Homo sapiens: one gene and its partners. The protein of the gene in region 2 interacts with the protein of the main gene of each other region in a biochemical or structural test. Each region holds a gene or a part of one and is shown on either strand. Other genes may lie near its edges.

What was found.
Region 1: the proteins of PTGS2 (region 2) and USP22 form a complex in vitro, tested with the Homo sapiens proteins (one study listed by BioGRID).
Region 3: the proteins of PTGS2 (region 2) and COPS7A form a complex in vitro, tested with the Homo sapiens proteins (one study listed by BioGRID).
Region 4: the proteins of PTGS2 (region 2) and NUCB1 form a complex in vitro, tested with the Homo sapiens proteins (one study listed by BioGRID).

The regions. Positions count from the first base shown.
Region 1 is NC_000017.11:21,039,999-21,047,261, forward strand, and holds the start of USP22 (ubiquitin carboxyl-terminal hydrolase 22), read right to left. Parts: upstream 3,014-7,263; 5' UTR 2,838-3,013; coding exon 2,667-2,837; intron 1-2,666. UniProt on the Homo sapiens protein: Deubiquitinase that plays a role in several cellular processes including transcriptional regulation, cell cycle progression or innate immunity.
Region 2 is NC_000001.11:186,677,420-186,684,716, reverse strand, and holds the start of PTGS2 (prostaglandin G/H synthase 2 precursor), read left to right. Parts: upstream 1-4,293; 5' UTR 4,294-4,426; coding exon 4,427-4,478; intron 4,479-5,278; coding exon 5,279-5,395; intron 5,396-5,515; coding exon 5,516-5,659; intron 5,660-6,312; coding exon 6,313-6,456; intron 6,457-6,886; coding exon 6,887-7,068; intron 7,069-7,297. UniProt on the Homo sapiens protein: Dual cyclooxygenase and peroxidase in the biosynthesis pathway of prostanoids, a class of C20 oxylipins mainly derived from arachidonate ((5Z,8Z,11Z,14Z)-eicosatetraenoate, AA, C20:4(n-6)), with a particular role in the inflammatory response.
Region 3 is NC_000012.12:6,719,339-6,727,051, forward strand, and holds the start of COPS7A (COP9 signalosome complex subunit 7a), read left to right. Parts: upstream 1-4,707; 5' UTR 4,708-4,841; exon of another isoform or gene 4,842-4,912; intron 4,913-4,948; exon of another isoform or gene 4,949-5,275; 5' UTR 5,276-5,318; coding exon 5,319-5,480; intron 5,481-7,713.
Region 4 is NC_000019.10:48,895,536-48,903,314, forward strand, and holds the start of NUCB1 (nucleobindin-1 precursor), read left to right. Parts: upstream 1-4,776; 5' UTR 4,777-4,837; exon of another isoform or gene 4,838-5,123; intron 5,124-5,250; 5' UTR 5,251-5,261; coding exon 5,262-5,396; intron 5,397-7,779. Other genes in the region: TULP2 (tubby-related protein 2), read right to left, coding at 895-1,021, 1,810-1,861, 2,302-2,333. UniProt on the Homo sapiens protein: Major calcium-binding protein of the Golgi which may have a role in calcium homeostasis. Acts as a non-receptor guanine nucleotide exchange factor which binds to and activates alpha subunits of guanine nucleotide-binding proteins (G proteins).

The DNA of each region.
Region 1 (7,263 bases), on a different chromosome or scaffold from region 2:
GACCAGCCTGTGCAATATAGTGAGACACTGTCTCTACAAATATTAGCCGGTCGTGGTGACACACGCCCGTAGTCCCAGCTACTCAGGAGAGGCTGGAGTCCAGGAATCTGAGGCTGCAGTGATCACTGACCAGACCATTGCACTCCATCCTGGGTAACAGAGCAAGACTCTGTCTCTACAAAAAATAATTTTTAATAAAATAAAATTTAAAAAACAAAATGTCCTAAGCTTACAGATCTGATGGAAATCCTATGCAGATTGTCCAACTGTTAATCATCAGGTTTGTTAAACTATTTCCCAAACCAACTCTTCCTTAACTGGGCCACTAGAGAGTGCTAGAAATGCAGGACACCGCACATGAAGTGATACAGGTAAATAAGTCCCCCCAGTCAGAGGAAAAAGCATGGAGGGCTTAAGGGCTCCTTGCTGGCACACTGCCAACTGGCACTGCAGCAGCCCCCACCTAAATTTTGAAAGAAATATTTTTCACTACCCGACTACAGTTCAACTTCTAATTGGTGAATAACATACATGTGGCTCAACAGTTTTGAAACTAAGCAACTGACATCTGAAATTAAAAGATTAATCAGAGCCATAAGTAGCGCAAAAAAAAAAAGTAATTCTTAACTTTAGGAAATTAGGCAAAGTTAGTTAATGATGGTTTAAACTTGACTCCTTCTATTTGGTTAAAAAATACCAGAGGGGGGAAGAAAGGGAGAGGGAGGGAGGGAACGGAAAAAGAAAAGGAGGGAGAGGAAGAGTGGGGCGGTCCCCACTTCATCCAAAGTAGTAACAAATCTTGGGCGCGTCACGTCCCAATCCGGACACTACTGACCCAGAGTAGCAACAGCACATTCCCTGTAGAAGACTGGCTTCAACCAGGCCACCCTTTTTTTTTTTTTTCCGGAGGGGGTCTTGCTCTGTCACCCAGTCTGGAGTACAGTGGCGCGATCACTGCTCACTGCAACCTCCGCCTCCCGGGTTGAAGTGATTCTCCTGCCTCAACCTCTGGAGTAGCTGGGATTACAGGCGCCCGCCATCACACCCGGCTACTTTTCGTATTTTTAGTAGAGATGAGGTTTCACCATGTTGGCCAGGCTGGTCTCGAACTCCTGACCTCGTGATCTGCCCCCCTCGGCCTCCCCACGTGCTGGGATTACAGGCGTCAGCCACCGCGCCAAGCCAGGCCATCTTTTCTTAAAGACACACAATTCTACTAGCAAGACTCTAACTCCGATCCTGAAACGTTTTATGTCTGATTTTAGTTCATCCAGACATAACGCTACCTGATACCATTACAGATAAAAAAAATTTTGAGGCCGGGCACGGTGGCTCATGCCTGTAATCCCAACACTTTGGGAGGCAGAGGCGGGTGGATCACCTGAGATCAGGAGTTCCAGACCAGCCTGGCCAACATGGTGAAACCCCGTCTCTACTAAAAATACAAAAATTAGCCGGGCGTGGTAGCAGGAGCCTGTAATCCCAGCTACTCAGGAGGCTGAGGCAGGAGAATCGGCTGAACCCGGGAGGCGGAGATTGTAGTGAGCCGAAATCGCGCCACTGCACTCCAGCCTGGGGTACAAAGCGAGACTTCGTCTCAAAAAAATAATTTTTTTTTTGAATTACTGCTTAACATACCCTACAATCTCAGCGAGCCTGTTGGTATTCCCATAAATAAAAAAATGCCACTCAAGGTGGAAACTGCCCTCACAACTCCCAATCTCGGATTGTAATCTACAAAAGCGCGTGAAACTGTAAAAATAAACTTTATTCACATAGAAGAATCACGTTACGTTTTGATTTCCAAACCCTTACCAAGCCTAACTGCGGGACGCAAGACTGGGCTCCCCGAGGGGACTCACTCCTGGTTAAGGCCTCCCACAGCCCACGGCGCGCTTCCAAGTCTACTCCTCAGCCGCAACGCAAACCCGGGCTGTGGCTCCGCACCCACAGGCTCGCCCCGGCCCCAGCCCCTGCCGCCCTCCACCTCCAGCTCCTCGCGGGCCCCGAGGCAGCCGCGAAGCTCCGGCCCCGCGCCCCCCAGCCCGCCTCCTGCCCCAGCTCCCGTCCAAGGTCGCTCCTGGCGGCGGGTGACCGCTGCAGACCAACGCCCAGAACTCGACAGCCCCCCATCCTTTACTCATTTTTTTGAAATATTTCTTTCTCTGCACCCGCATCCAGCCCCGAACCCTCCAGAACCAGGAGAGTTCCCCGCAAGGACCTCGCGCAGGAACGCCCGGGACCGCCCACCGAAGTCCCAGGCTCCCCAGGCAGCAGGGCAGGAGAACACCACCCCCGGCCCGGAAGCACTCGCCCCTCCCGGGCCAAGAAGGATAAGGGAGGGGGAGGGCGGAGAGAAAGGAGGGGGAGGGGACAGAGAGGAGGGGGAGGGGACAGAGAGGAGGGGGAGGGAAAGGAAGAATGGGGGAAGGGGGGAGAGGGGAAGGATAGGAAGATGAGGAGATAAGGGAAGGGAGAGAGTTGAGGGGGGAAGGAAAGGAGGGGGAAGGGGTAAAGAGAAGAGAGGGCAGAAGGAGAGAGGAAGAGGAAGGACAGGGAAAGGCAACGGGGGAAGGGAAGAGGGCAGGAAAAGGGCCCCTCCGCCGGCCGGCCTCAGGAGCGGCAGAAGGCCCCGAGCCCGCCGCGCGGTGGGCTGCCGGGCGCACCTTGCGCTTGCGGGCCTCAGCCGTGCCGCTCCACACGAAGCACTGGTAGATGGCCCGCAGGTTCTGCTTCCAGTTGTCCACCTTGAAGCTGCCCAGGTGCGAGCAGCCCGGCGGCGCTACCGCCAGCTCGGCGTCCATGGCCTCGCCCTCGGGCTCTGGCCGGGACACCATGGGGGGCAAGGCCCGGCCGCGCGCGGGGGGCGGCGGCGAGGGAGGCGAGGACGACGCCAGCGCGGCGTGGGGGCTGCTCGGCGGCTGGCCAGGCTGGCCAAGGCCCGGGCGCCGAGAACAAAGCGCGGAGGCCGGACAAAGATGGGGCTGCGCGATCGCCGAGGGGAGGCTGCAAGGCAGGCACCGCCCCCGAGCTGCGGCTGCTGCGGACCGCCTGCGCTGCGCTCTCGCGGTTCGCGGAGGGTGTCGCGGGGCGGGGCGCCGCGGCCGCGGACGGAGATTACGTCACCCCCCCCCCCCCTCCCGGCCGGCACCGCACTGCGCAGTCTCCAGCCCGCGCCAGGCCCTTCCCCCACACTCGCGCGCCCGTTAGGCTCTGGGTAGACCCGCGCCCGAGGAAGCGTGGTAGGGGGGGGAAGCTAACGAGGGCCCGCCCCTCCCCTTCCTTTATTGGTAGTAGGCCACCCCCCCCCCCCCCCCGGCACCTTCGGCTATTGTCATAGGCTCTCAGTATAGTCCGTCTGGTACAGAGCCGCCTCCCGGGACCCTGGCGGCTAGACGTTCCCTGTCTCTTCCAGAGGACTGGGGAGGCGGGGGCGTGCTGCGGTTGGGCGGCGCGAGACGTCAGTCCTAGCACTGAACCGGTTTGCGCCGGCCTGAGCTCTGCCGCAAAGAGGCGGGGCGATGAGCTGGAGCGCCGCAGGTCGGGCCTCCATCCAGGGCCTGCGCTTTCCCACCCAAAAGCACCCCCTAATCGGGAGCTGTTTGCAGGGCCCCCGGTTGCCGTAACCTGGCTCGGGCCCTGCAGTGCCGTGGCCCGGGGCTGGAACTGCCTGCCAACTGCCTGGTAGGCGCTGCCCCCGGCCGCAAGCTGGGGCGCCTCCTGTCGGGAGCCCGCTGATAGTGAGGGCCAACCCGGCGCCATCCAGTTTAAAGAGGCATCTGCGCGCCACACGCCTGACACTTCACATTTGCTAGTGGCTACATTTTTCTAATGAAAAAAGAAAGTTACAGTAATATATCTCAACCCAATAAAGTCAAATTATTTCAGCATGTAGGCAGTATTGCAAAATCGTTAGTGGAATGTTTTACAGTTTTTGCAGCAAGTCTTGGAAATCTGGTATTTACACTTAAAGCACATCCAATTCCTACTAGCTGCTACCGCAGTGGGCGGCACAGGTCTAATCGGTATACAAATAACTGACCCAAGGCAAACTGAGAAGACATTTAAAGACGAATGCAAACGAAGTTCTGGGGGAACCAGGGCGCCAAGGGTCTGGGGGAACTTGGATAAGGTGTCAGGTGTGGAGCTGCTCCCCTGTACTCATCCCGCTGCTAACTGCTTTGCTCATTCATTCATCCACAGATTGCAGGAAACAGCAATTGCCGTCCAGAACCATCACAAGTTAAAAAATAAAGATTGTGATCTCACAACACTTAAAGCTACAGGGTTTAATGGACTGACGACTGGGATAAAGCTTTTGTGGCCAAGACAAATTGCCGAGCACAGGTTTTTGCCTCATGGCCTTCGTGCTTGCAGTACCCTCTCCCTAAAATGCTTTCCCTACCCCCTCACCCTCTGCATCCTTATATTCCATGTCTGATGCTCGCTCACCTCCTTCCAGCTTTATCACACACCTCCTTTTCCGTGAAAAGGAAAATTGCCACCCTAATGAAAATTGCAAGCCCCCCAAAATTCTCCATTCCCTTACCCTGCTTTGTTTTTCTCCAAAGAATTTATCACTATCTGGCGTAATGAATATTTACTTATTTTTTTTATTGTCTCTTCCCTTAATAGCATGAAAAATTACGAGAGGGTAATCTTTTTTTTTTATTTTTTATTTTTGAGACAGAGTCTCGCTCTGTTGCCCAAGGCTGGAGTACAGTGGTGCAATTTCGGCTCACTGAAACCTCCGCCTCCCAGATTCAAGCGATTCTCCTGCCTCAGCCTCCCCAGTAGCTGATATTACAGGCGCCTGCCACCACGCCGCTAATTTTTGTATTTTTAGTAGAGAGGGGCTTTCACCATGTTGATCTGGAACTTTTACTAGAAATGGGGTTTCGTCAGGCTGGTTTTGAACTTCTGACAGCAAGTGGTCCACCAGCCTCGGCCTCCCACAGTGCTGGGCTTATAGGCGTGAGCCACTGCGCCTGGCCTCCAAGAGGGTAATGATATTGTGTGTTTTATGTACTACTACAGCCGCAAGTTCCCAGAACTGTATTGGCTACATGCAGGTACTCGGAATTACCCGGTGAAGCCCTATAGTAGTCCCAGCTACTCCAGAGGCTACGGCAAGAGGATCGCAGAGCCCAGGAGGTCAAGGCTGCAGTGAGCTGTGATTGTGCCACTACACTCTAGCCTGGGCAACAAAGCAAGACCCCATCTCTAAACAAAACAAAACCCTGCCGAATTAATTAACCCGAAACACATTTACAGAAAAATCTAACGAGACCATTTCTAGAATAAAACACTTGTTAAGGAAAACCATGTTTATGTTAGAGGAAAGAATGTCAGCTTACAAAAAACTAAAATCCTAACTAGTAAGTCAGGAATTACAAAAATATGTGATCCATCTCTATAAATATTGATGTAAGGAGTTTTCTCATATTGTTGGGCTTATACAAATATGATTTGGCTTCACAAATGTGCACTTAGCATTCAGGCCCTAATATTTATTATCTTTTTTTTTATCAATACGATCATCTAAGCACAGAAGAATATCTGTGCTGTCCACTTGAATCAATTATAATGATTTAAATGTTCCATAATCAGAACAACCTTAGTGATTTTAAAAAATTTAAACTACAGAATATACTCTTGAGAAGCAGTCCCCAAAAGATGTATGGATGAAGTGCTTTTTTTCTAATGGGAAACAAATGGAAACGTTAATGACGATTAATAGGAGAATCATTGAATAAATGATGGACTAGCCATTCTAGGGAATAGTACACAGCTATTAAAAAGAATGAAGTCCAGCTTGGGCAATGTGATGAAACCCTATCTCTACAAAGAAATTAAAAAAAAAAAAAAAAAGCCAGTTGTGGTGGTGCACGCCTATAGTCCCAGCTACCCAGCAGGCTGAGGCGGGAGGATTGTTTGAGCATAGGAGGTCGAGGCTGCAATGAGCCCTGATCATGCCAGTGATTCCAGCCTGGGCAACAGAGAAAAAAAAAACTAGATCTGTAAGTACTAGTACAAAAAGTCATAAAACATAAATGAATACAACAAATTGCAGAAAATTACAGAAAATATGCTGACGTTTGTAGGAAAATAATGGAAGGCCTGGAAGAAAGAAACACACCCATCAATAACAGTAACTTCTGGAAAGGAAAAGGTAGATGTGACTTAATCTGTAATGTTTGAATGTTTTCTTACAATGAAAATTAATATATTCCTTTGTATTTAAAAATCACTAAAACTTAAAAAGAAATGACAAAGTGTCATGGTACGAGGGAACACACTGTTCTACAACATGTAGAAAACAGTGGCCCACATGTTCAGTATATGCATTTATTCATGTATCCAAGAATCAAGTCAGATTGCTAAATTACAGTCAGGCTCTGCCACCTACTATCTGTGTAACCTTGGGCGGATTGCCTAAATTTCTCAGCCTGTTCACTTATCTGTTAAAATTGGGAGAATATCAGCTCTGTGCTTACGTTGAAGTGTATGGCAAGGAATAAATGAGATAATCCATACAAAACTCTTAGCAAGTGCCTGTTGTTAATAAGGGCTCAAGAAACATTAGCAGTTATTGATCTGATAGTTGCTGGCAATTGAGATGATTACAACAATTTCTTGCTTCAAGAATCCCAGGAGGATGGGAGAGGAGAATTTTTTTTTTTTTAATTTAAAAAAAAAAAGGCCGGGCATGGTGGCTCACGCCTGTAATCCCAGCACTTTGGGAGGCCGAGGCGGGCGGATCACAAGGTCAGGAGATCAAGACTATCCTGGCTAACATGGCGAAACCCCGTCTCTACTAAAAATACAAAAAATTAGCTGGATGTGATGGCACCATTGTAGTCCCAGCTACTCAGAAAATCGCTTGAACCCGGGAGGTGGAGGTTGCAGTGAGCCAAGATTGCACCACTGCACTCCAACCTGGGCGACAGAGCAAGACTCTGTCTCAAAAAAGAAAGCCAGGTGGCCTATGCCTGTAATCCCAGCACCTTGGGAGGCCAAGGTGGGTGGATCACTGAAGGTCAGGAGTTCAAGACCAGCATGGCCAACATGGTGAAACCCCATTTCTACTAAAAATACAAAAATTAGCCAGGCGTGGTGGTGCATGCCTGTCATTGTAGCTACTTGGGAGGCTGAGGCAGGAGGATCACTTAAATCTGGGAGGTGGAGGTTGCAGTGAGCCAAGATCGCGCCACTGCACTCCAGCCTTGGTGATACAGTGAGACGGTGTCTTAAAAAAAAAAA
Region 2 (7,297 bases):
TGTGACTTCTAATTTTTTGTTGAAAGCCAGGCATGATGTACTGAGTGAAAGAAACTCAATACATTGTAATGTGACGATAAGAGTTCAGGGGAAGTGAAGCATTCTATAGTCCTATAGCAGGTCTCGGCCTTTTAGTGAGCCTGTGCCTATGAACGGTGACTTTCAACAAGTGCTTTTCATTCCACTCTTTTCCTGTCCTTAAGTGGGACAAGATCACTGGGGGGGGGCTAGAATTGGGTATTTCCCTTCTCCAATGTAGAAGCTAAAGAGAGGGCTGGAGTTGGGTATTTTTCTTCCCCTGTATGGAAAGCTAGAGGCAGTTAAATTTGGATATTTTCCTTCTTCTAATTCAGTTAGGCTGCGACAAAAATCCCGACAGTTTAGGCTCTAATATTATAAAATAATTTCTCTTGAGTATAGGCCTTATTAAGAACACTATACTCTGATGGAGCTGAGGGGGAGTTTTCTCTGATATTCACTGCGAGAACCTCGTAGAGCTCCAGGAAGCAAAACTCACAAAAGTGTGGGAGTCTTCCAGAATTTTTCCTTTGCAGACTTATCTGCACTGAACCTCCAGAAATTCATCAATTACAGTTCAGGTTTTCCTACCCAGGTACTGGTTTTCATGGAGGTTTCTGCCTGTGCATTTCTGCTCCAGTAAGTTGTTCTTCTTGTATGGTCTGTCTTTCAAATTTTTTAAGTAGGGTTATGACCTGTCGCCTCACTTCTCTGACAGTTCTGAGAGTGTTGATTTTTCAGTTTGCTTAGATTTTTACTTGTTTTTAGGATGAAGTGACAATTTCCAAGCTCCTCCCTGACATGCCAGATCAGAAACTGAAAGTCCTAAGCCTCATATTCTGTGCGTGGGTATGTTCACATCCTGCCTGCTCCAGTGCCCCCACCTCACACTCTCTTTCCCTTCCTTGTCCCCTTGTGAGATTTCTAGGTCCAATACAAAGACTGTGTTCAACTCATTCAACTACTTTGGCTCATCTGAGTATTATAATGAACAATCACAAAAAAAAATGAAGTAAAAGAAAAATCCATCAAAGAATTGAGATATTTGAGAAAAAGAAAGGAGATCAGTGTTTTATAAAACTTAGAAATAGATTTTTTAAGTGTTTCTTCATTGACTTATGTGAAAGGACTTTTCTTAATTTAACAAATTATGTGCTTTCGTTTATAGCCTCAAAACTTCTTGTGTAGCTAAGAATGGGTAAATAATCAGGCTTTACTAAAGGACTAACGTAAAGATCTTCTGTAAGTAACATTTCTGCTACTCAAGGAAGAGATAAACTTCATGGCATAACCTTGCCAAAGTATACTAAGAATAACCCTGACACAAAGCTCTTTTTTCAGCCAACATGCCATGAAAGAAAGAAGACAAGGGGTGATCTCCACTCTCTAAGTGAACCACTAAACCCACCAAAGAAGAAACGAGGGAAATAGAAAGAGGACCCTTGCCTGAGATAATGGATCTGTATGTATGAGTAGTAGAACCCTGCTCAAAGTACAAGGAAGGGAAAAAAAAGTTAGTTTATTTGGAATTTTGGACATTAAGAGTCTTTATTGTTCATTTTCTTTTAACTCACATGAATGGCTTATCACTTCAATTAATAAATATTTCATTTCTTTTCAACATATTCATGAAACAAATCTGAAATGAACAGTGCAACATGTGAATGTTTAGAACATTATAAAATTAAACACAAAATCTGTCTGGCAATCTTCCTAGCATCTTAGGAAAAAAGTTGACAAAATTTCAAGCAGCAGAAGGGGGCAGTAAAACTCAACAGAAAGCTCTGGAAGATTTTTAAGATTCTTCCTTATTTTCTTTTCATGTAGATTATTTCCCAACAAATTTCAGACGCTAATAGAAATTTTGTACAACAGATCCATATATTTGCCTAAAATAGACACAGAAACATTGAATATATGCAAACATGAGAGCTATAAGTTTTACATGATCAAACCTTTTTTTTATGGTACACAATAGTCACAGTACTTTTCCATATAAAACAGGTTTAGTGGTCTTAATTTAGTTTGGCACATTTAATACACTCCCATGACCAGCATCCCAAATGTACCTATCCGTTTTATTTTATTGTCTCAGAATTGTCAGTTATTTAATAAATTATGTAACTTTTTTCCTTATGCTCAGATTTGCACTTCTTTCTAAAACTCTGCCCATCCTTAAAGTCCCAGATTCTCCTTGAACTTTTTTTTTTGACTTTCCAAGTACATGGAACTCTTCACTCTATCCTGCTATATAAGTGACAGAATTTCCACTATGGGATAGATGGAGTTCAATTCCTTTGAGTTTAAAATAATCTAAATATAATTATTCCTTATGCCCTGTTTTTCCCTCACTTTTGTATCCAAATCTCTTTTCAGACAACAGAACAATTAATGTCTGATAAGGAAGACAATGATGATGATCACTTCAAAATGAATTCAGGATTGTAATGTAAAATTTTAGTACTCTCTCACAGTATGGATTCTAACATGGCTTCTAACCCAAACTAACATTAGTAGCTCTAACTATAAACTTCAAATTTCAGTAGATGCAACCTACTCCTTTAAAATGAAACAGAAGATTGAAATTATTAAATTATCAAAAAGAAAATGATCCACGCTCTTAGTTGAAATTTCATGTAAGATTCCATGCAATAAATAGGAGTGCCATAAATGGAATGATGAAATATGACTAGAGGAGGAGAAAGGCTTCCTAGATGAGATGGAATTTTAGTCATCCGTGTCTCATGAAGAATCAGATGTGTACACTAAGCAAAACAGTTAAAAAAAAAACCTCCAAGTGAGTCTCTTATTTATTTTTTTCTTATAAGACTTCTACAAATTGAGGTACCTGGTGTAGTTTTATTTCAGGTTTTATGCTGTCATTTTCCTGTAATGCTAAGGACTTAGGACATAACTGAATTTTCTATTTTCCACTTCTTTTCTGGTGTGTGTGTATATATATATGTATATATACACACACACATATACATATATATATTTTTTAGTATCTCACCCTCACATGCTCCTCCCTGAGCACTACCCATGATAGATGTTAAACAAAAGCAAAGATGAAATTCCAACTGTCAAAATCTCCCTTCCATCTAATTAATTCCTCATCCAACTATGTTCCAAAACGAGAATAGAAAATTAGCCCCAATAAGCCCAGGCAACTGAAAAGTAAATGCTATGTTGTACTTTGATCCATGGTCACAACTCATAATCTTGGAAAAGTGGACAGAAAAGACAAAAGAGTGAACTTTAAAACTCGAATTTATTTTACCAGTATCTCCTATGAAGGGCTAGTAACCAAAATAATCCACGCATCAGGGAGAGAAATGCCTTAAGGCATACGTTTTGGACATTTAGCGTCCCTGCAAATTCTGGCCATCGCCGCTTCCTTTGTCCATCAGAAGGCAGGAAACTTTATATTGGTGACCCGTGGAGCTCACATTAACTATTTACAGGGTAACTGCTTAGGACCAGTATTATGAGGAGAATTTACCTTTCCCGCCTCTCTTTCCAAGAAACAAGGAGGGGGTGAAGGTACGGAGAACAGTATTTCTTCTGTTGAAAGCAACTTAGCTACAAAGATAAATTACAGCTATGTACACTGAAGGTAGCTATTTCATTCCACAAAATAAGAGTTTTTTAAAAAGCTATGTATGTATGTGCTGCATATAGAGCAGATATACAGCCTATTAAGCGTCGTCACTAAAACATAAAACATGTCAGCCTTTCTTAACCTTACTCGCCCCAGTCTGTCCCGACGTGACTTCCTCGACCCTCTAAAGACGTACAGACCAGACACGGCGGCGGCGGCGGGAGAGGGGATTCCCTGCGCCCCCGGACCTCAGGGCCGCTCAGATTCCTGGAGAGGAAGCCAAGTGTCCTTCTGCCCTCCCCCGGTATCCCATCCAAGGCGATCAGTCCAGAACTGGCTCTCGGAAGCGCTCGGGCAAAGACTGCGAAGAAGAAAAGACATCTGGCGGAAACCTGTGCGCCTGGGGCGGTGGAACTCGGGGAGGAGAGGGAGGGATCAGACAGGAGAGTGGGGACTACCCCCTCTGCTCCCAAATTGGGGCAGCTTCCTGGGTTTCCGATTTTCTCATTTCCGTGGGTAAAAAACCCTGCCCCCACCGGGCTTACGCAATTTTTTTAAGGGGAGAGGAGGGAAAAATTTGTGGGGGGTACGAAAAGGCGGAAAGAAACAGTCATTTCGTCACATGGGCTTGGTTTTCAGTCTTATAAAAAGGAAGGTTCTCTCGGTTAGCGACCAATTGTCATACGACTTGCAGTGAGCGTCAGGAGCACGTCCAGGAACTCCTCAGCAGCGCCTCCTTCAGCTCCACAGCCAGACGCCCTCAGACAGCAAAGCCTACCCCCGCGCCGCGCCCTGCCCGCCGCTGCGATGCTCGCCCGCGCCCTGCTGCTGTGCGCGGTCCTGGCGCTCAGCCATACAGGTGAGTACCTGGCGCCGCGCACCGGGGACTCCGGTTCCACGCACCCGGGCAGAGTTTCCGCTCTGACCTCCTGGGTCTATCCCAGTACTCCGACTTCTCTCCGAATAGAGAAGCTACGTGACTTGGGAAAGAGCTTGGACCGCTAGAGTTCGAAAGAACTCCGTGGATATTCCAGCTTTCCCACAAGCACTGATCATTATGAGCCAGTTACTTAACCGATCTGAGACACTCTCACCTCCTAAATAGGGATAGATGATACTAATTTGCAGGTTGTCATTATGATAAGACAGGATCTGATCAATATATGTGAATTGTTTATATTTGGAACCTTTTTATTGAGTGGAAGAAGTTGTTTTAAATATTCTAGTCAGTTCTTTCCTGCTCCCAGGAAAGCCCGGATTATGTTTTAAGATAAGCAAAATGTCTTAAAAGTAAGCTGTTTTACTTTGAATTTTTCCCTAAATGTTGATTAGTGTACTAGATCCATTTTAATTTGGAAAGTGAAGTGCTACTTATTTGAACTTCTTAAAAATGCTAATTTTAACATCTAAAGAGTTAACTAAGAAAAGCTTAGTAACATGATGTACCAAGTTGAATATGCTGTTATCCTTATTTAGAATAGAAAATTGGTATTTCTACGTTTTATCCATTCTAAGGCAGGTTAAAAAATTGTATTTCCATGACTACCTATATATTTCTTGAATTTATTATTGTAAAGTTGATTCATAGTCAAACAATTAAATGTTTAAATTAAGATTAAGACACTAGAGAATGATTTATTTGCTGTCCTTTAATTGCAGCAAATCCTTGCTGTTCCCACCCATGTCAAAACCGAGGTGTATGTATGAGTGTGGGATTTGACCAGTATAAGTGCGATTGTACCCGGACAGGATTCTATGGAGAAAACTGCTCAACACGTAAGTTTGTCCTTTGGTTGCCTCATTAGGAGTGGGGCTGGATACAGTTATCATTGTATAGATTTGTGTCTTATAATGAGTCCCATTAATTTCTCCCTCCCTTTCTTCGTCTTCTTGCAGCGGAATTTTTGACAAGAATAAAATTATTTCTGAAACCCACTCCAAACACAGTGCACTACATACTTACCCACTTCAAGGGATTTTGGAACGTTGTGAATAACATTCCCTTCCTTCGAAATGCAATTATGAGTTATGTGTTGACATGTAAGTACAAGTGTCTTTCTAAGGTTTTTAGCCTTCTCAAAGAAAAATATGCTTTATAATACTGTAAGCCTAATCTAAAAACATATTTCCAAGCTTATCAAAAAGACTTTAAGATAGCTTTTAAGTTTGCCTTCCATCTTAATCGCCAAAAATATTGACATTTAGTCCCATCCAGTTTATACAGTCTGCTCACAACTCTGTATACCTCTTCTAACCTTTACTGTTTGGTCAGTTTGTGGAGGTAGCATGGTCCAGCTGTTTATTGAATGCCCATGGGCCACAGAATTGTTCTGAACATGTAGCACCCATTAAAATAAATTTGGATTTGGATCAGCAAGAAAATAACTTTCCATGATTCTAAAGTGGGTGCCATACTCAGCCATTCCTTTCATAGGCCTCTTGGATAGTGAGCAGATGGCTACCTGAAAAATCAATATTGCCAGATTATAATGTGCAGAGTATATGTATTTTATTAAAGATGTATTTCAAGTGGCCATTAGACTATAAAGTGTAGTTGTTTAAAAATAGATTTTTTTTATTTTGGAGTTACATTCAACCTCAGGTGCCACTTTCCACATTTTACAATAAAAATAATGGTTGATTTACTTAACAAATGAGAATAAATAAAACATTTTTTTCTTTGAAAATTTCAGCCAGATCACATTTGATTGACAGTCCACCAACTTACAATGCTGACTATGGCTACAAAAGCTGGGAAGCCTTCTCTAACCTCTCCTATTATACTAGAGCCCTTCCTCCTGTGCCTGATGATTGCCCGACTCCCTTGGGTGTCAAAGGTGAGTAAGAAGAATCCATTAGAGATGTATTAACTATAAGACGGGCTGCATTGCTGCCAAAAAAAAAAATTGACCTTAGACTACCATTTATTTATTAACAAAAGCAGTTTTTACTTTTAGCATGGTTATCTATGGGTATTTTTTAAAGTATGAGTCTATATAAACTATTATGTAAAAGCAAATGAGCGTCTTGGTATAATGTCTTAATATTTTCAAATTATTTCTTTAGAAATGAAATAATTCTAATTAAAATAGATAAAATCATTCAGTAAGAAGTTGTTCCACCATATCTTAGAACTGTTGTTTATATTATGATCCTATTCACAATTGTAATTCTCATATAAATGAAGAATTCTTGGTAGATTGACAGTCACCATCTCCTTTCTTGAATACATAGATGGATTCTTACCTTAGCTTTCTCATTTTTCAGGTAAAAAGCAGCTTCCTGATTCAAATGAGATTGTGGAAAAATTGCTTCTAAGAAGAAAGTTCATCCCTGATCCCCAGGGCTCAAACATGATGTTTGCATTCTTTGCCCAGCACTTCACGCATCAGTTTTTCAAGACAGATCATAAGCGAGGGCCAGCTTTCACCAACGGGCTGGGCCATGGGGTAAGATAGAGTTAATATCTTAGAGTTAGTAAAATTATACCAAATCATAGTCAAGGGCTAACATTAAAGGAGATATACAGATAGATAGATCCAAATAACTTATCCACTTTTTTTAAAAAGAAGTCTTATCTATAAAAACCTTAAAGGAATTTTCCATTTACTTCACTGGTCTAGTAAAATTATACACACACACAGACATGCACACACATATATAAACATTCACACACAT
Region 3 (7,713 bases), on a different chromosome or scaffold from region 2:
TCCTGAGTTCAAAAGAGCCACCCTCCTCGGCCTCCCAAAGTGCTGGGATTATTTGCGTGAGCCACTGTGCCTGTCTTATGATGTCATTCTTGACTTTCTTTTCTTCTCATACCTCACATCTAATCAATTTGCAAATTCTGTTCACTTTAAGTTAAGTACAGAAACCAGGTCAGGTACTGTGGCTCATGCCTGTAATCCAGCACTTTGGGAGGCTGAGGCAGGTGGATCACCTGAGGTCAAGAGTTTGAGAACAGCCTGGGCAACATAGTGAAACCCCGTCTCTACTAAAAATACGAAAATTAGCCAGATGTGGTGGCACACACCTGTAGTCTCAGCTATTTGGGAGGCTGAGGCAGGAGAATCACTTGAACCCGTGAAGCAGAGGTTGCAGTGAGCTGAGATGGCACCACTGCGCTCCAGCTTGGGAGACAGAACGAGACTCCATCTCAAAAATAAATAAATATACGTACATACATACATACATACATAATCCAGCTATTTCTCTCTGCATCCGCCACTGATATCATGGTCTAAGTTATCACCGTCTCTTGCCTGCATCATTGCTGTGGCCTTCTAATTGGTCTAATTGGTTCTGCCCGTGTAGCCATTTTAATATGTTAAACGTGTGGGTCAGATGGTGTCACTCCTCTGCTCAAATCCTCCACTGGCCGTCCATCTCACTCTAAGCAAGAGCCAAAGTCCCTACAGTCGCCCATAAGACATGATCTGGACACCCTGCTCTCGCTCTACCTTGCCTCCTCTCCCCTTTCTCAATCAGGTCCAGCCACAAGGCCTCCTTGGTGCTCTTCAGACACATCTAGTATGTCCCCATCACGGGGCCTTTGCACTGGTAGTTTGCTCTGCTTGTGAAATTCCCATACAAATCCATCCAACTGGCTCCTTATCACCTTGTCAGGGAGGCCCTCCTAAGGACCTTAAATAACAAATGTCTCCTGCATTCCCCATCCCCCTTACCTTGTTTTTGTTTTTCTTCATATTTATCACCTTGTAATTATTTAAGGCCTGAATTCTACCACAAGAATACAAGTAGCAAGAAGGCAGGGATTTTGTCTACCTCTCCAGGAGCTAGAACAATAATATCTTTTGACTCAATGATAAATATTTTCTTACATGTTTGACTCTTTGGATGTCAGTCAGCTTTTCTAGCTTTATTTCAGTGCATCTTTTCTATAATTAGCATGAAAAACAGCACCTGGCACATACCCTTGTATATAACTGCCACTTAGTAACGAATGAATGAATGTTACCTCCAGGACTTTGCTTATATTTACTTAGTTCCCATCCTCTTCTTGGGACACCTTTATTTTTCTTCCCACTTTCTCCTCTTCTTTTCCCATTTCTACTCCTTTTTCTTATCTTTCTCACATTTCCTCCTGCTCCTCCTCTTCTCTCTCTAATCCTACTTCTTTAGTCCATTTCCTCTCCTGTCTTTCTCCAAACTCTCTTTTATCTCCTTACTCATTGTTCTCTCATATTCTCCTCTCACTCCTTTTTCTCCTATAGAACCATAAGACATCAGAACCCAAATTGGCCTTAACATCTAATCTCTCTTGGCGGATATGGAAGAGGAGATACCACAAAATGGCTTGATTTGCTTTAAGGTCACAGCTGGTTTAAGACCAAATCAGGAGTAAATCTCAGGTTATCTCTTTCTTTGTGCTCTCTTCTCTGTCGCTCTTTCCTTTCTGCTTTTTTCCTGCTTCTCTTTCTTTTTTTAAATGTTATTTATTTATTTATTTTTGAGACAGAATCTTGCTCTGTCACCCAGGCTGGAGTGCAATGGCACAATCTTGGCTCACTGCAACCTCTGCCTCCTGGATTCAAGAGATACTCCTGTTTCAGCCTTCCGAGGAGCTGGGATTACAGGCATGCGCCACCACACCCGGCTAATTTTTGTATTTTTGGTAGAGATGAGATTTTATCATGTTGGCCAGGCTGGTCTCAAACTCCTGATCTCAAGACCTCAAGTGAGCCACCTGCCTTGACCTCCCAAAGTGCTGGGATTACAAGCATGAGCCACTCTGTCTGGCTCATTTCTTTCTTTCTTTCTTTTTTTTTTTTTTTTTTTGAGACGGAGTCTTGCTCCGTTGCCCAGGCGGAAGTGCAGAGACAGGATCTTGGCTCACTGCAACCTCTGTCCCCTTCTCCTTCCTCAGGGTTCAAGCAATTCTCCTGCCTTAGCCTCCTGAGTAGCTCGGATTACAGGGGTCTGCCACCACGCTCTGCTAATTATTATTTTTTTAGTAGAGATGAGGTTTCACCATGTCGGCCAGTCTGGTCTCGAACTCCTGGCCTCAAGCGATCCGCCTACCTTAGCCTCCCAAAGTGCTGGGATTACAGTCCTGAGCCACCACGCCCAGCTCGCTTATCTTTCTCAATACAGTGTTGGAATCAGACAAACTTGCATTTAGATCTCAGTTTCATCACAGACCGGTAACCTTCAACAAACTATTTAACTTCTGTATTCCTAAGTGTCCTCACAGGTGAATTGAGACACTAATATGCACCTCATAGGGTTGCAAAGATCGAATAAAAATTTGAACAATCGGCCGGGTGCGGCGGCTCGCGCCTGTAATCCCAGCACTTTGGGAGACAGAGGCCGGTGGATCACGAGATCAGGAGATCGAGACCATCCTGGCTAGCATGGTGAAACCACAGCTCTACTAAAAATACAAAAATTAGCCGGGCATGGTGGCGCGTCCCTGTAATCCCAGCTACTTGGGAGGCTGAGGCAGGAGAACCGCTTGAACCTGGGAGGTGGAGGTTGCAATGAGCCGAGATTGTGCCGCTGCACTCCAGCCTGGGCCATAGAGCAAGACTGTCTCAAAAAAAAATAAATAAGATAAAAATTTGAACAATCGAGGCTGCAGTGAGCTGTGATCGCATCACTGCACGCCACCCTGGGCAACAGAGTGAAACCATGCCTCTAAAAAAAAAAAAAAAAAAAAAAAAAAAAAAGTAAAAAATGAACAAATAAAGCACTTGGCGCAAAATAGAACAAATACGGGTTATTTTCTCATCCCTTCATCTTACATGTTTTTCCCTTCTCTCTAAAAATGATAAGCTTGGCCGGGCGCAGTGGTTTACGCCTGTAATCCCAGCACTTTGGGAGTCTGAGGCGGGCGGATCACGAGGTCAGGAGATCGAGACCATCCTGGCTAACACGGTGAAACCCCGTCTCTACTAAAAATACAAAAATTAGCCGGGCGTAGTGGCGGGCGCCTGTAGTCCCAGCTATTCGGGAGGCTGAGGCCAGAGAATGGCGTGAACCCGGGAGGCGAAGCTTGCAGTGAGCCGAGATCGCGCCACTGCACTCCAGCCTGGGCGACAGAGCGAGACTCCGTCTCAAATTAAAAAAAAAAAAAAAAGATAAGCTTGGGGCGGGGAGGGGTGGATGCAAAATAATAATAATAATGTTTGGACTCATTAATTCCTTGCTTCCTTCAAACTCTGAATATTTTATTATGCCTTTGATTCCTTCTACTCACTTTTGTTTCACCTTTTCCATTCATTTCTTCTTCTCCTCTTCCTCCTTTCTCTTTCCTTTCTGTGTTTCTGCTTATTTTCTATCACAAACCAAAATATGCGGACCATAAACTGCATCTGCAGTTCCTTTAGCCCTAACAGACTACGAGTCCTATTTCTCTTTATCTTTCTCTTTTTCACTTTCTTGTCTTTCCATTACTTACAAGTTTCTTAATTTTCCTGAGTTCAGTTTTTCCATCTGGAAAGTGGAGATAACAATTACTAGATCGTTGTATCAGATGAATTAAGTAATGCTCATGGCTTAACACAAAGGCCAAGATGTCATTAACTTTACCCTCACTTGACCTTCTGCAAGCCTGTTGTGAAATATAAAACACTATAGAAATGTTAGTTGTTTTTGTTTTTATTAAAGTATCATATTGAAGTAGAAAGATGGTTTTGAGTTTGAAAAGCTCCAGATAAATCCTTGGATTTTTATGAGCCTCAATTTCCTTTTCTGTAAAATGAGAACCACATAGGGTTTTTTCCTCCCCAAGAAATTAAGAGTCCATGTACTGAAAGCATCATTCTACAAGTATTAATACATATGTAGTAATCATGGTAGAGGGTGTCCTGAAGTCACAGGGGAATATTTGTGAGGATTCAACGGAATAAAATTTTAAAAGATGTCTGACCAATAGTAAGCACTCAATACATGTTAGCTTTATTCTCTCTTTTATTTTTCTCGCTTCTTTTCTCCTGCTCTTCAAAAAAGTGAGTGGTTGAACCACCTAGGTGATCTCTGCTGCTAAACTTCTATTATTGATTTTTGTTTGCTTCCTCTCTGCCCCTTGTTTCCTCATCCCGTTTTTTTCCCTCTTCTTCACTCCTTCCGTTACAGCTTTTCTCTTGCCTCAGGTACCCAGTGCAGTCCTGATCTCCAGCTCTCCAGCGGCTTAGAACAGACACAGAATGGGCCGGGACCAGGGACCCACCAGAGACGTCTGTAGTTAATAGCTGGCGCTCTTCCACTAATAAAGTTTTATTGAAATAAAGCATTTAAAAAGGCGCCCGTCATTCTTCCCCCAGCGACCAATCGAAGAGTAGAATGCCTGCGTCCCTCACTGGAGCTTCAGCGGTCGGAACGCGGGGGTGGGGCATGTCCTGCCGAAATTTGCGTCCTTAGAGCGGAAGTACGGCCGGAAGCCCGCCATAGAGTTTAGTGGCCAGAGCGACTCTTCAGGGAGGTGGCAGGAAAGGCTTGGAACAGCTGCCGGAGGTGACGGAGCGGCGGCCCCGCCCGGTGCGCTGGAGGTCGAAGCTTCCAGGTAGCGGCCCGCAGAGCCTGACCCAGGGTACGACGAAGCAGTCGGCGGGAGCCCACGGTCGCTGGGCGGTGTCTTTAAGGGAGGGGGCGGAGCCACGTGTAAGCTTCAATGGGGGTGAGGTCACGTGGTTGTGGGCGCGTGCGGGGCAGCAATGGAGAGCTGAGGGAGCGTCGTCAGGGTGGACACCATGCGACACCCATTTCTCCTTTGCATCCTGTGTCTTGGGGTTCAATGGGGTGCACGTGATGGGGCTTGGGGTTAGGCCCAGGGGAGGGGGTGGGTGTGGCAGCCTTGCGAAGTGGCTGACTTTAGGATTCCTAGATCAGAATTTTAGACCGCTCCATGTCTGATTCCTCACCGCAGAACCGACTTAGTGCCTTTACAATCCAGTCCCTCAGCCTTGTGCTTCCCATCCGACCAGCCATCGGGGACCTCTAGCTTCACATCCTCTTTCCTTGCAGCTCTGGACATCCTGAGCCCAAGTCCCCCACACTCAGTGCAGTGATGAGTGCGGAAGTGAAGGTGACAGGGCAGAACCAGGAGCAATTTCTGCTCCTAGCCAAGTCGGCCAAGGGGGCAGCGCTGGCCACACTCATCCATCAGGTGCTGGAGGCCCCTGGTGTCTACGTGTTTGGAGAACTGCTGGACATGCCCAATGTTAGAGAGGTGGGTTGCTGGCTTGAATAGCCCTCAGAGAAGCGTGGGCAAAGGTTTGAATTTGAGAATGGGTGGGCAGGGCTCATTTTGTGATCCAATAACCATTCAGTTGAACAAGAAAACAGTGATAATTAAATGCCAACTTGCAGAAGTAACCAGTGAACAAGCAAACCAGCTCTCCTTTGGAGATAAGGGATCTGTAAAGCCCACTATTTTTCATTTTAAGCAAAAGAGCATCCTATTCAGAATAGGAAACCTGATTTCCAGCCGGTCTCCACCAGTGTAGTAGCTGTTAATTCTCATGTCACCTTGATCAGGTCACTTTTGTTTTAGGGCTTCAGCTTTCTCTTTTTTTTTTTTTTTTTGAGACGGAGTCTTGCTCTGTCACCCAGGCTGGAGTGCAGTGGCGTGATCTCAGCTGAGTGCAAGCTCTGCCTCCTGGGTTCACGCCATTCTCCTGCCTCAGCCTCCTCAGTAGCTGGGACTACAGGCGCCCGCCACCATGCCCGGCTAACTTTTTTGTATTTTTAGTAGAGATGGGATTTCACTGTGTTAGCCAGGATGATCTCGATCTCCTGACCTCGTGATCCGCCCGCCTTGACCTCCCAAGGTGCTGGGATTACAGGCTTGAGCCACCGCACCTAGCCAACTTTCTCTTTTAAAAATGGAGACAATACTGCCCCTCTCTGTTGTGGGAATAAAGTGAGATTATGGGAAAGTGTGAAGTCTGGTACAAGTGGAGAGTGAACATGTTAAATTAGCATGCCCTTTTCTTCCCTATGTGCAGCATATGCTAATCTATTCAAGTTAGCTAAGGGAGAACGTGTCTTTTTCCCAGAGACACATGGCAAACTGCTAGGAACACAGCAGAGAGAACCGTTCACACAAAAGTGGCAGAGTTAATTTACAATCAGAGGAGGCAGCCTGAGTCCTGACATGCTGACAGTGGTATGTGGGTAAACTGAGCTAAGTTATTTGGGGCCTGTGGTTTAACCTTTTGGATCACTCTGTGATATGGAGAAAACTGGCTGACTTTTCCCTGCTTTCATCTGCAGTGGAACTAAAGAGTATCAATCAAAGTGATGAAAAAGAAGCACTTGGCTGGGTGCGGTGGCTCATGCCTGTAATCCCAGCACTTTGGAAGGCCAAGGCAGGTGGATCACCTGAGGGCAGGAGGTGAAACCGATATGGCAGAATCCTGTCTCTGTTAAAAATACAAACAGGGCTGGGCACGGTGGCTCATGCCTGTAATCCCAGCACTTTGGGAGGCTGAGGTGGGCGGATCATGAGGTCAGGAGATGGAGACCATCCTGGCTAACATGGTGAAACCCCGTCTCTACTAAAAATACAAAAAATTAGCCGGGTGTGGTGGCGGGCGCCTGTAGTCCCAGCTGCTTGGAAGGGTGAGGCTGAGGTTGCAGTGAGTTGAGTTCGAGCCACTGCATTCCAGTCTGGGCGACAGAGCGAGACTCCATCTCAAAAAACAAGACAAAAACGAAAAACAGGGCCAGTCATGGTGGCTCATGCCTCTCATGCCTGTTCTCAGCACTTTGGGAGGCCGAGGTGGGTGGATCATGAGGTCAGGAGTTCAAGACCAGCCTGGCCAAGATGGCAAAACCCCGTCTCTGCTAAAAATACAAAAATTAGCCGGGCGCGGTGGCAGGCGCCTGTAATCCCAGCTACTCGGGAGGCTGAGGCAGGAGAATCACTTGAACCTGGGAGGCAGGAGGTTGCAGTGAGCCGAGATTGCACCACTGCATTCCAGCCTGGGCAACAGAGTGAGACTCTGTCTCAAAAAAAAAAATAAATAAATAAATAAAACAAACAAAAGCTCATGTATCCCAGAACTTAAAGTATAATTTAAAAAAAAAAAAAAGGGAGGCGGAGGTTGCAGTGAGCCGAGGTCGCGCCACTGCACTCCAGCCTGGGTGACAGTGTGAGACACCATCTCAAAGAAAAAGAAAAAGAAGCACTTATTAAGTGGCTCTTTACTACCCTTCTTATGGTCTGGGAATACAAGAAAAGCACCAGGCATGGAGCTTACCCTTCTGAAGCTTGCATTCCAGTTGAAGAGAGAAGATGAATGGATAGAAATCTGAATTATTTATTTATTTAGCAAGTATTTCTTGCGAGGCAATTACTGCATAGCTCTGTGGGATACCTGAGACTGGGTCTATAATCTTGTTGAAAGATATTCTTAGGTAGCAACCTTCTGCAAGGATTGATTGATTAAGTGCCAGAA
Region 4 (7,779 bases), on a different chromosome or scaffold from region 2:
ATCTACAAATTCCGGTCCTCAACCAAAATCCACCCCGTCACTGGGCTCCCAAATATCACCCCCGCCAGGCGCCGTGGCTCACGCCTGTAATCCCAGCACTTTGGGAGGCCGAGGCAGGCGGATCACCTGAGGTCGGGAGTTCGAGACCAGCCTGACCAACATGGAGAAACACCGTCTCTACTAAAAACACAAAATTAGCCGGGCTTGGTGGCGCATGCCTGTAATCACAGCTACTCGGGAGGCTGAGGCAGGAGAATCGCTTGAACCCGGGAGACGGAGGTTGCGGTGAGCCGATATCCTGCCATTGTACTCCAGCTTTGGCAACAAGAGCTAAACTCCGTCTCAAAAAAGAAAAAAAAATCACCCTGTTTCGCGGACCGCCCAAACCTTGAGACCCAGGTCCCAAACTGCATCCTAAGCCTCAAACAAGCACAGCCCTGCCGCTGGATTGTTGCGGGCTCCGCACGTAAAGAATCTCGCGCCAGGCTCTCGTAATGAGACCGCGCCCCGCCCCGGACCCCTAGACCCCGTCTCCGCAATCCCGGGTTTGGGGTGGGGGTCCCGGCTTTCCCAGGCTCCACCACCGAGCTCTGCCAAGCCCAATCATCACATTCTCTTGCCCCTTTCCCCTGCTAGTTGTACCATGCCCCGCCCCTGCGCTCTGTAGCCCTGCCCCGAACCCCTCCCTCACAGGTCCTGCCGCGGGGGGCCCCCACAAGCCTCTCCCCTGGGCGCCCACAGGCCCTGTTCTAAAGCTCTCCTGGGCCAAGGCCCGCCCCCATCCACTGCCAAGTCCCCACCCTAAGGCTCCACCCCTTCATCCACTAGGCCCCGCCCACAGACTCCCACAGGCCCCTCCCCTCCAGGCGAACGCCCCCAGGGGTCTTTGGTCACCTCTGTCACCTAAAAGGCGCTCCTCCCGCAGACAAGAGCGCCAAAGCCACGGGGAAGCGTCAGGATTGGCCTGAACCATGAGGAGCTCCTGGCGCTTCTGTCGCTGCTTCTTTTCAAACAGCCGCCGCTGGGGAGATGGGAGAGGTGGGTGTCCGGGACAGGAACCAGATGGGAAGACAGAAGTGAGGTGGGGCCTGGGGCAAGGGCTCGCATCGGCGCGAGAGTTCGTGAACCCCTTCCTCCACTGGGGCCCACACGTCCAGGCCCTCAGTTCTTCAGCAGCTCCTCCCTTATTCCACCGTTGGACTCAGATCCAAGAGTCCTGACACCCTGTCCTCTCATCCCCCAGGACCCAGGAGTCCTGCCTTCTAGAAGCCTTGTTCCTTAGAAATTCATCACAAGGGTTTGTTTGCTTCTTTAGAACCCCCAATTCCTATTTTCTTTTCTTTTTCCTTTCTTACTTTTTTTTTTTCTTTTTGAGACAGAGTCTGGCTCTATCGCCCAGGCTGGAGTGCAGTACCACGATCTCCGCTCACTGCAGCCTCCGCCTCCCGGATTCAAACGATTCTCCTGCCTCAGCCTCCCGAGTAGCTGGGATTACAGGCGCCTGCCACCACACCTGGCTAATTTTTTGTGTGTTAGTAGAGACGGGGTTTCGCCGTGTTGGCCAGGCTTGTCTTGAACTCCTGACCTCAAGTGATCCGCCCACCTCAGCATCCCAAAGTGCTGTGATTACAGCCGTGAGCTGCCCTGCCCGGCCCCAAATTCCTATTTTCTCATTTCTCAGTGGGAAAACTCAAGGATGAGAGACAGCCAACACGGGCTGGGAGTCCTAGAGCAAGACCTGGTGGAGAGGCCCCTGGGGAGGCACAGAAGGCGGAAGAGTTGGAGTGGTGAGATTCCTGGGCACAATACCTGCTGTTCCAGCTTCTGCAGCCTCATAGCAGCGAGCTCATGCCCCAGGATGCTGAGAGAGACACAGGCCCATGGTGACAGTGCACAGGGAACCTCGGTTGCCCAAGAGAGTCCCTCCTTCCCCCATCCTGCCCCTATCTCAGCTTGGGTTCTGGGCACCTGTGAGGTCACAGGAGGTGCAGAACCTGAGCCTGCTCCACCAGTTATAGGGCCCTTTCTCCTGGCACTGGCCCACAGAAGCCGGGACCCAGAGATCCCAGGTCCCTCCTGTCTCAGGATTCAGGAGTCTGGGGCCCCCAACCCCTTCTCTTTCAGACCCAGAAGTCTGCACCCTAGCCCCATCCCTTCAGGACACAGGAGTCCAGGTCCCCAGCCCCTTCCTGCAAGGCCGATGGTGCTGAACCTGCAAACATGGTTATGAAGCCAGAGCCGAGTGCACGGGGTCCCCAGCCCTTTCCACCTCCACCCCTACCCATCTGTTTCCCTACTCACTCTCTCATCAATGTGTCATTATCCTGAGACATTCTGCAGAAGCAAGAATGAGGAGTCAGGATCAGAACCAACATCCCAATGGATCCTGCCCACCAGCACCTAATCTTTAGCCTTATTTATTTATTTATTTATTTATTTATTTATGTATTTAGAGACAGCTGAGCCTCGCTCTGTCGCCCAGGCTGCAGTGCAGTGGCGCCATCTCGGCCACTGCAACCTCCACCTCCTGGGTTCAAGCGATTCTCCTGCCTCAGCCTCCCGAGTAGCTGGGACTACAGGCGTCCGCTATTCTGCCTAATTTTTTTGTATTTTAGTAGATACCGGTTTTCACTATGTTGGCCAGGCTGGTGCCGGACTCCTGACCTCAGGTGATCTGCCCGCCTTGGCCTTCCAAAGTGCTAGGATTACAGGCATGAGCCACAGTGCCCGGCCTGATCCTTACCTTTAAATTTGCTTCCGGACCCAGGCAGCCCGAATCCCAGCACCCACTCCTGTCGGGATCTAGTAGCCTGTTTCCAGCTTCCCACGGGGGTCCGCAAGTCCGCTTCTCTCTCCCCCAAATATCTAATTCTCCAGCACCCAGGCATCAGAACTCAGGACTGTGCACTTCAAACACCCAGCCCCCAGCGGCCTAGAACTCCACTGCCCACCTGCCTGGGATCCGGGAGACTTGTTCTCCTCACCAGGTGCCTGGAGAGGCTGCTCACATTGATGCCTCGGTACCTTGCCTCTCTGGCCAATCTCTAAACATACCTGATCCTCTCTTTGGAAGCTGGGGACCTAATCTCGGGATATCTGCGAAATAGGGAGGAGAAGAAAGACGGCTCAGAGGGAGGGAGGATTCCCTCTGGGACCTGAACTGGTCCACTCCCTTCTGACCCTCCACTCTCCACTTCCAACAAAGTAACGAACTCGGTCACTGATGCAGCCAGGCAACCCTGCTCCGGGGGTTCTGAACACGAATGCCGTGTGGGGGTTCCTTAAAGAGACCAGAGACCGGCCCGGCGCGGTGGCTCACGCCTGTAATCCCAGCACTTTGGGAGGCCGAGGCGGGCGGATCACGGGGTCAGGAGATCTAGACCATCCTGGCTAACATGGTGAATCCCCGTCTCTACTAAAAAAAAATATATATATATACACAAAAAAATTAGCCGGGCGTTGTGGCGGGCGGGCGCCTGTAGTCCCAGCTACTCGGGAGGCTGAGGCAGGAGAATGGCGTGAACCCGGGAGGCGGAGCTCGCAGTGAGCTGAGATCGCGCCACTGCACTCCAGCCTGTGTGACAGAGGTAGACACCGTCTCAAAAAAAAAAAAAAAAAGAGAGAGAGAGAGCGGGAGACCAGAGACCTCGCGGCCTCACTGTACACATCTCGCTTACAAGAAACTTAAAAGAGGCGGGGCGCAGTGGCTCACGCCTGTAATCCCAGCACTTTGGGAGGCGGAGACGGGGAGGCAAGATTGCTTGAGTCCAGGAGATCCAGATCCAGACCAGCAACACAGAGATTTTTTTTTTTTTTTGAGACGTAGTCTCACTCTGTCGCCCAGGCTGGAGTGCAGTGGCGCGATCTCGGCTCACTGCAACCTCCGCCTCCCGGGTTTAAGAGATTGTCCTGCCTCAGCTTCCTGAGTAGCTGGGATTACAGGCATGCGCAACCACGCCTGGCTAATTTGTATTTTTAGTGGAGGCGAGGTTTCTCCATGTTGGCCAGGCTGGTCTCAAACCCTTGACCTCAGGTGATCTGCCTGCCTCAGCCTCCCAAAGTGCTGGGATTACAGGAGTGAACCCCCAAGCCCGGCTTGACATCCGTCTCTTTAAAAAACAACAACAACAAAGTGTGAGAAGTGTGAAAGACAGAACGTTAAAAAAAAAAAAAGGCTAAAAAAGAATTAAAGATTTAAATATTTGTATTAAAAATTTAAAAAATATACATTAGCCAGGCATGGTAGTGTGGCCTGTGGTCCCATCTACTTGGGAGGCTGACGCGGGAGGATTGCTTGGGCCTGGGAGGTAGAGGCTGCAGTGAGAAGTGATTGCGCCACTGCACTCCAACCTGGGTGACAGAGCAAACCCTGTCTCGAATAATAAGAAGAAGAAGAAAGAAACTCATAAGAAAGGCTATGCAATTGCTACCGCGCTATAACTTCCAGGCACTTCGTGGGGCGAAAATAAATGGGAAAACTACAGCTCCCATGAGGCGAAGGGGCCACGATGCCCGCGGAAGTTATTTTTCCCCCGGCCGGCAGGGAGTTGTAGTTATCTTTGAAAGCCTTCTCTCTCTTTTGGCATAGGCGGGAAATGTGGCGTCAAGAGGCTGGGATTCCGAGAAAGAAGCGAGGCTTTCACGAAAATGCGAGCGGCTTCGGCAAGGGGCGGGGCCGCTGGACGTGGATGAAAGCTACAGAGCCAGCGTGGACCAATCAGACCTCTTTGGGGCGGGGCCTCTGTGGATAAGTGGGCGTGGTCTAGGGGGGAAGTCACCAAGAACGCACCGGAGGTCCTTGCCCGCCCTGGAAAACGCCCTCTGCGGTGAAGGAGAGGTGAGAGGCCAGGGTTCCCATACTCTTGGGTCCTAGGGAGGATGGGGGCCAGAGGGCTGGAAAACTGGGTCCCGGAGGAGGATGCACTGGGTGCCAGTACTTTAGGTCCTGGGAAAAGAGGAGGCTGGGACCCTGGACTCTTGGGTCTGGGGGAGGAGGCGGCCGAGATCCCGGATTCCTGAGTGTGAGAGAGGAGCGTGTTGGGAGCCAGGACCCCTGGGTCTGAGGGCCCAGACTCCTGTGTCGGAGGAAGGGAAGGCCGGAGGCCTGGAATCCTGGGGCCTGGGTAACAAAATGCTTGTGTCTTGATTCTTGGAAGTGGGGGCGGCGCTGGGGGCCCGAACTCCTGGTTCCAGGGGAGGAAGAGGCTTGGGACAGACATTATGCATTATCCAGCCCTCCATCCCCCACAGACCACACTGCCATGCCTCCCTCTGGGCCCCGAGGAACCCTCCTTCTGTTGCCGCTGCTGCTGCTGCTCCTGCTTCGCGCCGTGCTGGCTGTCCCCCTGGAGCGAGGGGCGCCCAACAAGGAGGAGACCCCTGCGACTGAGAGTCCCGTGAGTGGCCCTGCCCTGCTATCCAGCCAGGTGTTTGCAGTGGTACTACAGCTCCTGCAGACCCCGGTGCCCGTAGGGCGGATGCTCCAGTGACTTCCTGGCCCTACAGTTGTAGCTTGTTTTTTGCCCACCATTCCTCCCAGCAGCAGGGGTTTGACTTGGTGAAAAACTGGAGGTCCCTGACTCTGAGGTGTGGAAAATCTGCATCACGCCCCAACTAAACGTCTGTTTTTTTAAGATTCTCTCCACCCAAGAAGGAATTTGAAAACAAACAAACAAAACTACATTTCCCAGTAGCACCATGTTGCTAGTTCCCAGTAGCAGTTGATGTTGGCTAGCTGGGGTATTCTGACTTCATGGTGCTCTTGGGAGTTGTAGTTTAAATTACAGAAGGGCGGGTGAACTGCTTGTTTATTAATTCCTACATGTGTTTATCAAACCCAATAAAAGCTTTGGTCTTAAGGGATTTGGAACTTTGGAGATCCTGAAGGTCAGTGAGTGTCTTGTGGTCCGAATCTTCCTATAGCTCCCCATAAGGATAGGCTGGTCAGGCCAGGCGCAGTGGCTCATGCCTGTAATCCTAGCACTTTGGGAGGCCGAGACAGGCGGATCACTTGAGGTCAGGAGTTCAAGACCAGCCTGGCCAACATGGCAAAACCCCATCTCTACCAAAAATGCAGAAATTAGCTGGGCGTGGTGGCTCACGCCTATAATCCCAGCTACTCTGGGAGGCTGAGGCACGAATTCTCGTGCTGGAACCAAGAGAGGTGGAGGTTGCAGTGAGCCAAGGTCACGCCATTGCACTCCAGCCTGGGCAACAGAGCTGAGACTCTGTTTTCTGAGACTGTCTCAAAAAACAAAGAATGGGCTAGTCATTACCCCCTGGAACGGATCATTGCATGTTCCTGGTCCCCACGCTGCAAGTTAGGCCTCTATTCTGTGAAATCCTTGCAGACCCAGGAAGGCTTTGTTGAGTCCCATTTCTTTTCTTCCATTCCACATGTTTCCTGAGCACCTTCTATGAGCCGGGCATAGTGTTGCCTATGTGTTGCATAGTTGTTAGGGCCCAGCCATGTGCATGCCCCATGCCCATGGACTATCCCTGCTCACTGGGAGATGGAAGACAAAGGGCAGGGCTCTATGAGAGTGAACACCAGGGGTGACAGTCAGGGAGGAAGGGAGGCGTGAGTTGAGTTCTTTCTTTCTTTCTCGCTCTGTCACCAGGCTGGAGTGCAGTGGTGCAATCTTGGCTCACTGCAACCTCTGCCTCCCAGGTTCAGGTGATTCTCCTGCCTCAGCCTCCCGAGTAGCTGGGACTACAGGCGCACACCACCACGCCCATCTAATTTTTGTATTTTTAGTAGAGACGGAGTTTCACCATGTTGGCCAGGATGGTCTCGATCTCTTGACCTCTTGATCTGCCTGCCTCGGCCTCCCAAAGTGGTGGGATTACAGGCATGAGCCACCTCATTTTTTCTTTTCCTTTTTCTTTTTTTTTTTTTTTTTTATTTTTGCTGTGTCACCCAAGCTGGAGTGCAGTGGTGCAATCACTGCAATCTCCATCTCCCAGACTCAAGCGATCCTCCTGCCTCAGCCTCTGGAGTAGCTGGGACTGCAGGCATGTGCCACCATGCCTAGCTAATTTTTTTTGTATTTTTGATAGAGACAGGGTGTCATTATACTGCCCAGGCTAGTCTCGAACTCCTGAGTTCAAGTGATTTGCCCGCCTCGGCCTCCCAAAGTGCTGGGATAATAGGTGTGAGCCACTGAGTTCTGAACTGGAGAGATATGTTAAGTCAAGAGCAAGGAAGAGAGGAAGTGAGGGGAAGAGCATTCCAGGCAGAGGGAACAGCATGAGCAAAGGCCACTTGGTAGGAGAAAGCAGAGCAAGTTGAGGACGTCAAGGAGGCTGCTGTGGCTGGAGCAGGGAGAGTGAGAGGGAGGGGAGAGGGGGATTATGTGGATCATGTGGGATCTTGTGAGACTAGGTAAAGAGGTAAAGAATGTATATATATATATATATGTTTAATAGACAGGGTCTTGTGCTGGTGCCCAGGCTGAAGCGCAGTGGCAGGATCATACCTCACTGCAGCCTTGAACTCCTGGGCTCAAGTGATCCTCCTACCTCAGCCTCCCAAAGCACTGGGATTACAGGCATGAGCTACCATGCCTGGCCTTCTCTCTTTTGTAATTTTATTTATTTATTTTTTCCAACTTATCTTATTTGCTTTTCACCACAACTCTGGGAGGCAGAGGATATATTGCCTATTTTATAAATAGTAAGAGCATAGAAGGCCCAGGGAGAGTAAAGTCCCACCCAGCTACGCATGACGGGGGTGGGACTAGGAGGCCTGGGACTTTTGTCTGTGTTGTTCACAGTGCC